Linked DNA regions of Homo sapiens: regions 1 and 2 are each linked to region 3. Evidence: fine-mapped expression QTL. A gene starts in region 3. Each other region holds a variant in brackets. All regions are shown on one strand. Distances are between the middles of the regions.

What was found. PIP is the estimated chance that this variant, and not a neighbour inherited with it, causes the effect.
Region 1: its variant is the best candidate, but not a certain one, in a credible set for the expression of GAS2 in whole blood (TOPMed, PIP 0.65).
Region 2: its variant is the best candidate, but not a certain one, in a credible set for the expression of GAS2 in tibial nerve (GTEx, PIP 0.59).

Annotation. Positions count from the first base shown.
Region 1 is chr11:22,604,120-22,606,892 of GRCh38, reverse strand. No RefSeq gene overlaps it. Among named protein-coding and RNA genes, the nearest start is that of FANCF, 20 kb to the left of the region's middle. The variant G/A (reference allele first, on the strand shown) is at 1,405.
Region 2 is chr11:22,820,255-22,823,027 of GRCh38, reverse strand. It overlaps SVIP (small VCP interacting protein), which reads left to right. Exons shown (of 4, transcript NM_148893.3): 4 at 1-2,773. Among named protein-coding and RNA genes, the nearest start is that of LINC02718, 7.8 kb to the left of the region's middle. The variant T/A (reference allele first, on the strand shown) is at 1,419.
Region 3 is chr11:22,665,186-22,667,958 of GRCh38, reverse strand. GAS2 (growth arrest specific 2) reads right to left here and starts at 1,348. Exons shown (of 8, transcript NM_001143830.3): 1 at 1,060-1,348. RefSeq lists a silencer at 1,109-1,268.

The DNA.
Region 1 (2,773 bases), 61 kb after region 3:
ATAGCTTTTTTCTTTCTTTAATAGGCTTTATTTTTTAAGAAGTTTTAGATTCACAGCAAAACTGAGCATATGGTGTAGAGATTCCCTCAACCCTTCTCCCCATACATGCATAGACTCCTCCATTACCAACATTCCCACCAAAATTGTATGTTTATTAAAATTAATGAACCTATAGTGACATGTCACTGAAAGACCATAGTTTACATTGGGGTTCACTCTTGGTGTTACACATTCTATGGGTTTAGACTAATATATAATATTATATATCCACCATTATAGTAGCATAGAGACTAGTTTCACTGTGCTAAAAATTATTTGTGCTCTGCCTATTCATTCCTTCCTCCCCATTTACCATTGAAACCACTGTCTGCCCATTCATTCCTCTCTCCCTATTTATCATTGAAACCACTGATCTTTTTACTGTCTCTGTAGTTTTCCCTTTTCCAGATTGTCATATAGTTGGAATCCTACAGTATGTATCCTTTTCAAATTGGCCTTGTTGACTTAGTAATATATATGTAAGGGTCCTCCATGTCTTTTCATGGCTTTATAGCTCATTTCTTTTTAGTGCTAAATAATATTCCATTGTCTGGATGTGCCATAGTTTATCCATGCACCTGCTGAGGGACATCTTGGTTGCTCCTAAGTTTTGTCAGTCATAAATAAAGTTTTCATAAACCTCTATGTGTGAGTGTTTGTGTGAATACATGTTTTCAACTCCTTTCGGTAAATACCAAGGAAAGTGATGCTGGATTCTGCTGTGAGAGTGTGTTTAGTTTTGTAAGACACTGCTAAACTGTCTTCCAAAGTGGCTGTACCATTTTGCATTCCTACCAGCAATGAATGCGAGTTTCTGTTGCTTCACATCCTTTCCAGCATTTGGTGTTGTCAGTGTTCTGAACTTCAGCCATTCTAATAGGTATATAATAGTATCTCATTGTTTTAATTTGTGGTAGGTAGTAGCTTTTTAATCAGGTCTTCCTGACTGCATTGGGGTCTGTCTACCATCCATTCTGAACAATGCAGTTAGAGTAGTTTAAAATATAAGACAGATCATGTTATTCCTCTTCTTAAAATACTGCATTGACATCTCCTTTTATCAAGTCCTTCTAATGGCCTACAAGGCTTTATATAATCAGCATTTTCTCTCTTACCCCTCTGCCTTTTCTCTTACTCTTCCCCCAACTCCCTCTGCCCTAGCTACACTGCCCTCCTTGCTGCTCTTAGAAAACACCAGATATGGCCCTGCCTCATTGCTGTTCTCTCTGCCTGTGAAACTTTTTACCATTACCTGTTTAGCTAACTTTCTTACGTACTTCAAATCTTTGCTCAACTTTCACCTCGTTGAGTCTTATTCTGACTACTCTGTTTAATACAGCAACTTTCCCCACTACCAGAGACCCT[G/A]CCCACTTTTGCCCCATCCCCATTAATGATCCTCCTTGTACTGTTCCATTCTTTCTTGTTTCCATAGAAATGTTCATCATTACGTACAAATTTACTATTTCCTTGTTTATTTATTTATTTTTTACTGCCTTCTCTCTATAGAATATAAACTCCTCAAAAAGAGGGTACTTAGTCTGTTTTGTTTGGTCTTATATCCAAAGAGTAGAGAACAGTTTTTAGCACAAAGTGAAAGCTCAGAAAGTATTTGTTAAATAGATATATGAAAGAATGAAGTAGTTTTTATAGAGTCACTTTTATGATTTCAGTCACTTACTCAAAACCCTTTAGTGGCTTCTCATTCCACTTTAAATAAAGGCAATTTTCCTTTCTTTCCTTGCCTTACAAGATTAAAAGTATACTCTGCTTCTCTATACACGTTTATTTGCTCATCTCTTGTCATTCTCCTTTCCATATACTCCAAAAACATGGAAATTCTTTCAGTTTTTGAAATAAACAGTTTTTTTTCTGTTCTAGCACTTGTGCTTACATTATTCCTTCAGTCAATAATGTTCTCATTCAGGTCTTTCACCTCTCAGCTTAATTTTATCTTCTCACCATAACATCTCTGTCTAAATATATTTCATCCCGATATTTTTCTTCAGGCAGCCCATTCTCTATTAATTACAGTTTTCCTGTTCATTTGTGTCTGCCTTTTTCACTGGGCTATAAGCTGAGGGAGGGCAAGTATGCCTCTCTTTTGCTAACTATTGAACATCTAAGACCCTCATACTATGACTGACATACATTAAGTAGCTTATGTATAGTAATGAAGTAGAAATTTGATGACAGCATCATCCTCTGTGTCATATCGCTAAGAAACATAAGTCATTTTGGTAGTGGCTACAAAGAGTGTAAACTCACACAAGAAGAGTGGGGGTCCCAATATAGGGTAACGTATTCATGCTACCACCCAACAATCTGAAAAATCTTCCAAAGCTTCTTTGTTGCATTTGAGTTGGATCAACAGGATTTATCGATGTCATGATTTAGTTGCTGTGGTTAAATTTCCATTTTTTTCTTGATCTTTGTAGCTCTTTTATACATATTTAAAGCTCTGAAACAATATACCAAAGCTCTGAAGTAGAAACCAATTATAAATAGAATGGCCCATCTTCCCTAGGAAATTGTGAATATAGGGTATTCATTATTAAAATAAATTAATTAATGTAAATGCCCCAGGAAGGAACCATTGATTTCTCTCAGGAATAAATTGGAAATGATCAATCACTATATTAGAAGTGTGGCAGTAGTGTCATTTATCAGATGCTAATTGTCATAGTGGGCTAAGAATGCCCTTTTGGCTTAGAAATATGGTGTCCCTAGGGAAAAG
Region 2 (2,773 bases), 160 kb before region 3:
AAATGAAGATTCAGACTTTGTAATATTATTGCCCTTAAGTGCAATGCTAAAAAAACGTTGATTTTCAAGCTTAGAGAATGGCTAGACTTTTCATTAAATACTGATTTTCCTACATTTGCTCTTCTGCAGTTAGTGGGTGATTTGCTATTTTTCTTAGTAGTTAAAAAATGGAACTAAATAGTGAATATACATACACTGCATGTAAACATTCTGCATATACCTCTAAGATTAAAATTCGCAGTTGTCTTTTCATCCTTTATAAAATGATCTAACTACTTATATTTGTGCTGCATCGCGTTACATCTGTTTTTATTTCACTATGAAGATGTTTGATTAAACTTATGGACTTAGTGCCTTTAAACTGATCATCAGGGAGAATCTTGAAAAAATCATTTGAAGGGCTGATGTGAAGGAGCACTGTAAATTTTTATAACTTAGTAATGAGTATTCTTAGGCAGATGTAAAATTTTTTCCAATTTATTTTTATTTATGTAGCTTATAAAATTAACATACCCTGTTTTACTTTATGATAAAGGATTTTTTGTTTGCTGAATTTAAAATTATATATTAGTGATACCATCAGAGGGCAGTGATGTTCTATTGTATATTAAATTCAGCTCTGTAAGGATCTTTGTAGTAATTGAATGAGTTAAACTAATAATCTGGATGGGTTATAATGAGTAGTAATATATTTGTCCATATTTCATAAGTAGTGTTAATCTTGTGTACTTATTAGAGAACGATCATAAGATTTATACAGATGTGAAACTGCGAAGGCAAGTATGAATGTATGAAAAAAACATGTAGGTACTGTACTTACAAAAGGTCTACTTCAGATATAAAAATATTAGGTAATTCTATACAATGCATAGTCATAAACCTTAACATTTTTGTTCATTAGAAACATGAATTTTATAGCATTTTTTGTTTCTCCTATATAATACACTGAAATAAAAGAATTTGTGTTAGCTATTAAGGCTGATAGCTCTTTTAAATGGCAAGGCCACATGTTGAGCCCTAAATTAAAATTTGCAGATATTAAGTGCTAATAGAAATTTTAAGTTAAATCGACCAAGTTCACTTGCTTTACACAAAGGAAACTGAGCCACTATCTTCATCTACCCCTCCAACAAAAATTATGTTATACTGCAGTGTATTGTACATGTTAATTTTTAAAAGTTTGAACTATTATATAATACAGGTCTCTTGACTTCTCATGGAAAAATTATTTTTTCTATTATGGTGTGAAATATTGTGTGAATATCTAGGCAAAACATAACAATTTGGCTCAATTTTCTTCTTTAGAGGATTCGTGCTGTTTTTGTTCATAAAGGGTAGTGAAATCATTGAACTATATTTTAGAATGAAAATTTTTGATTTTATTAAAATGATTTTTTCAAGGCAGAAAGTAAAAGGAA[T/A]GATTGATAGCGGAGTGCATATAGAGCTAGAGCATATCATCCTTGAACTCTGCAAATCCTTTCTTCCATTTTAATATAGCAAGAACAATTTTGTCTTTACTACATCTTAAAGAATTAGAACTTGGGTTGGTGTAAGTGACTTACTTCCAGGGAATCATGCCCTATTTCTACCAGCAGGTCATACCCAAATGTCACACTATCTATTGTTAACCATGAATGATATTCAGATCTATTACTTTTCGTGAAAAGTGGAACATGTTACTTCCAACCATGGCCTGTCACCGTGAGTGTGATCAGCTTTCTCCAAAACCACATGGGTCGCAGGAGCTAAGGGGTGGTACCCAAATGTTAGGAACAGTGTTAGGAAAGGGCAAGGGAAAAGAAGTGACTGGATGTCTTATGAGAAACCGGTAAATGACTAAAAAAAAAAGCAAATGACTAAAAACATGACTAAAAAATTATATATATATATAATATATATATTATATATGTGTGTATATATATACACATAATATCTGCAAATTCTAATTTATATATGTGTGTGTATATACACACACACACATGCACATACACACATACGTCCAGACATCTCCCTCATAAAATAACCATCAGTTTCTATGAAAACCTTAAGTGGAAGCCAATTTCCCATAGTAAATAATTTAGGAGAAAATTATAATGCTTAAAATGTTGCTCAAACCCCTGACCTATTACTAAACTATAATTGGAACAGTAAAATGCATATATGTAACTATCATATCATGATTTAAAATTGCTTAAACCATTGCTGCTTAATACTAATCAAACTTAACGGCTGCTAACAAAAGTTGTGAATTATTACACGGCCTCTTTGTAACGTGCTGCATGTTTTTTAAAACATCTCTGTGTTTCTGTTTGTTCCACTGCTGGTATTTGGAATGTAATTTAACAGTTCTCACACATGGTTTGGTTATAAATTCTGTATTGCCTTTTAGGGATATAAATATACATTTTTTTCTATGTAAAAATTAGCTTTAGCTGTCTCTTTAACAAAATTTTATCTTTACTACATCCTAAATACTTAGAACCTGAGTTGGTGGTTAGGGAAACCTCAGGAACATTTTAATCACATTGGGATTCAGAAGAGCAACAGAACCAAAGGTTGTTTGGTGTGTTCATACAATCCCTGGATTTATAGGTGGATTTTCTATAAAGGAAAAATGATGTAATTAGTATCCTGTTTTTTCCTAAAGAAATAATACTATCATAAAAATTCTGTCTATCCTTTGTACCCCAGGAAAATGGACATGAACTTTGAATTTTCCCTTTCTCCAAATGTTTGACTTTTTATTTTCACTGATAAGCATTATGCTATGTTC
Region 3 (2,773 bases):
ACTGATCTAACCTTGTTGGAGAGGGTTGGAGGAGATAATTTTATAAGAATAAAGTTTTGCAAACTCTTCACTGTAAGAAGATCACGGAGGTGAGAGGATGAAGATGAAGAAGATGGAGAGGGTAAAGACTGTGATTTCAAAAAGGTTAACTGGGAAAAGAATTAACAACCCTCCCCCAACCTCAATTGTTTTTAGAATGTAGAAACAGAATCTGTTAACCCTCGCTTTTGCTCCCTCTTCATTCAAGACAATGGAAACTTCTTCGGATACCTGGGCTAAGTTAATGGTAATTTACCATACTGAGTTGACAGAATTTAATTTTGCCAGTATAAATAATGTCTCCAAAGCAAAATTGCCTCCTTTGTTCCCCAAACAATTTCAGATTCCAGTCTCAACTTTGGACTGAACAAAAAGAACGATACCACGCAAAATCTCCCCAAAGTGTGTTGATATATATCGGCTAGCGTTTGTTTATTCACATAAAACTCAATTTCATCAAACTCATCAGACACAGTGAGTATCACCCCAGATCACACATGTGGCGCTCTTTCCTCCCATCCTGGCCTCAACGACTCAAGTAAAACATTCAGGATCAGCCCTTTAAGACCATTCTGGCTCTATCCCACCCCACCATAACAGACAATGCTGAGCATGCATTACAGATACTCTTGTGCACGAATGCATATGTGTGCATTTATAATCGATGTGTTCATTAAAAATCCTCACTCTGTCCCTGGTTGGCAGAGCCACCCCAGCGGGCTTACGTGCTGCGGTTGTCCGGGGTGTTCCGCAATAGGGATAAGGAACACATGGTTGTTTCCAGAGAATCAGAAAGTCACCCCCTGCAGTGAATACCCACTCTTAGAGAAAGAGCCTGTCCAACTGTCCGCGGCTCTTCACTCTTCCCCGCCTCGTTCCTGAGGTTATTTTTTAATGACCTCTCCCCTCCCCCGCCGCCCCGGGTGCAGTAGACAGGCAGGGGCTCCCGTGAGCCCCGGCTGCGGTGCGCGCACGCTGCGGCGGCGTTGGCGCAGAACTGGGCCAGCCAGTCGTGCTCACCCCCGCGTCCCGAGCTGGGCTGCTGGCGGCTCTCAGAGGCGCTTGGGCTCCGGGCTGGGCTCCTGCAGCTTCTCGGGGCCGGCCCCCTCCAGGCACAGGTCCTGCAGCAGCCGCTCCCCGCACCCCACCAGCCTGGCGGCAGCGGCAGCAGCTACAGCCGCACTACCCCTCTTCATACTTCTCTGATGGCTCCTTTTAGTGCTGTTTGGGAAAACGATTTTTTCTCCCTGCCAGAAACAGATTTCCTACATTTCATCAGTCCTCATAGACCGAGCGGAAGTAAAATGCTTACTTTTTTTGGTGGACGCAAATGCAGTTGACACTGATTTACCCTTCAAACGGGGAGAGATTGTATTACAAGCCCTTGGCAGCAATTCCGAGGTTGGGGCCAAGCTCCAGCCCCCTCCTTGTCCCCCAGACACTAACCTAAGAGAGAAAAGGTGGGGGCTGGGGAGGGGATCATATTTAACTCTAGAGGTTTAACAGAGTCAATAGCTTTAGCACAATATTAAAATTGGGTGTTGGAAAAGTTTTTGCTTTCCTGGCCAGTGATTTTGCAGACGGAGGCACGAGCTTTCCAGTAACTTCGGCCACTCTTCATTCCAAATTGAACATTTTGATGTCTTACAATTCTCTTTAAATATCAGATTTTTAGAAGAGGCTGTACTCACGGCTGTTTTTGCTTTACCAAAGGAAATACAATTCCACCCTTCCTTCTTTCAGCCTCAGCTCAGCATTATGTTGAATGTCAGAGACAATTGTCTCCAACTGTTGTTTATTAGTACGTGTATTCTGAGATGAAACGTCTTCCATGAAGTGGACAGATGTTCAAGTGTCTGATTCACCTCTAATGCGCGGGGACCGCTTGCTGAGTGTGCTGATCCCCACAGGTTACCACCTCCCATGGAGCATAAATAAAATGTATTACACTTTTTATTTTGTTTTGTTCTCATGTTCATCAGTTTCATGTATATTGCCATCCAATGTTTACAATGGCAGTGGTACAGGTATTGTGATCCTTGCTTGGATACCATTTTTATAATGATGAGTTACCTAGCCCCACTCCCAAATAGAAACTACCTGTACATCCACAAGCTAAATGATGTGGATGATTTTAGATATAATTTAAAAAATATTCACATTTCACCTTTATTATTGCCATTATCTGGCAGAAACTGCATCAGTTATTTGCTTCTAGTGGCAATACATTTAATAAAGAAGAAGAGAAAACCGATTGAAAAGTTTGGAGTCCTTGAACTCCGAACTTTTTATTTTAGTTCAATTTGCTTTTGCAGCTATCAGGTCCACATTTCCTCCTTAGCTTTCTAAAAGAAGGGAAAAATAGTTATTCTTAATTTTAAGGAGAAACAGCATTTTTAAAAGGTCAACATAACAGCTTGGATAAACATAAATAACAACAAAACATACAGAACTCATTACTGATGAGTTTTAGTAAACGAATCTGAATGATAAAATTTCTTAAAATGTGATCAGATCTGAGTATTCCTAGAGCCCCAACAAAGAATTTTGAGTGTCTGAACACATACAATTTAGTAAAAAATCAAATGTTCTTGATAATTTTTCCTGATCAAAACATCATCAGCCAATAAATGCTAATTTAAGAATTATCCAAATATGTAATGAGTTCAAAAAATTTAGCACCTTGAACTTTCAAAATCTTACATCCTATTTCTCCCCAGATATGAATATTCTT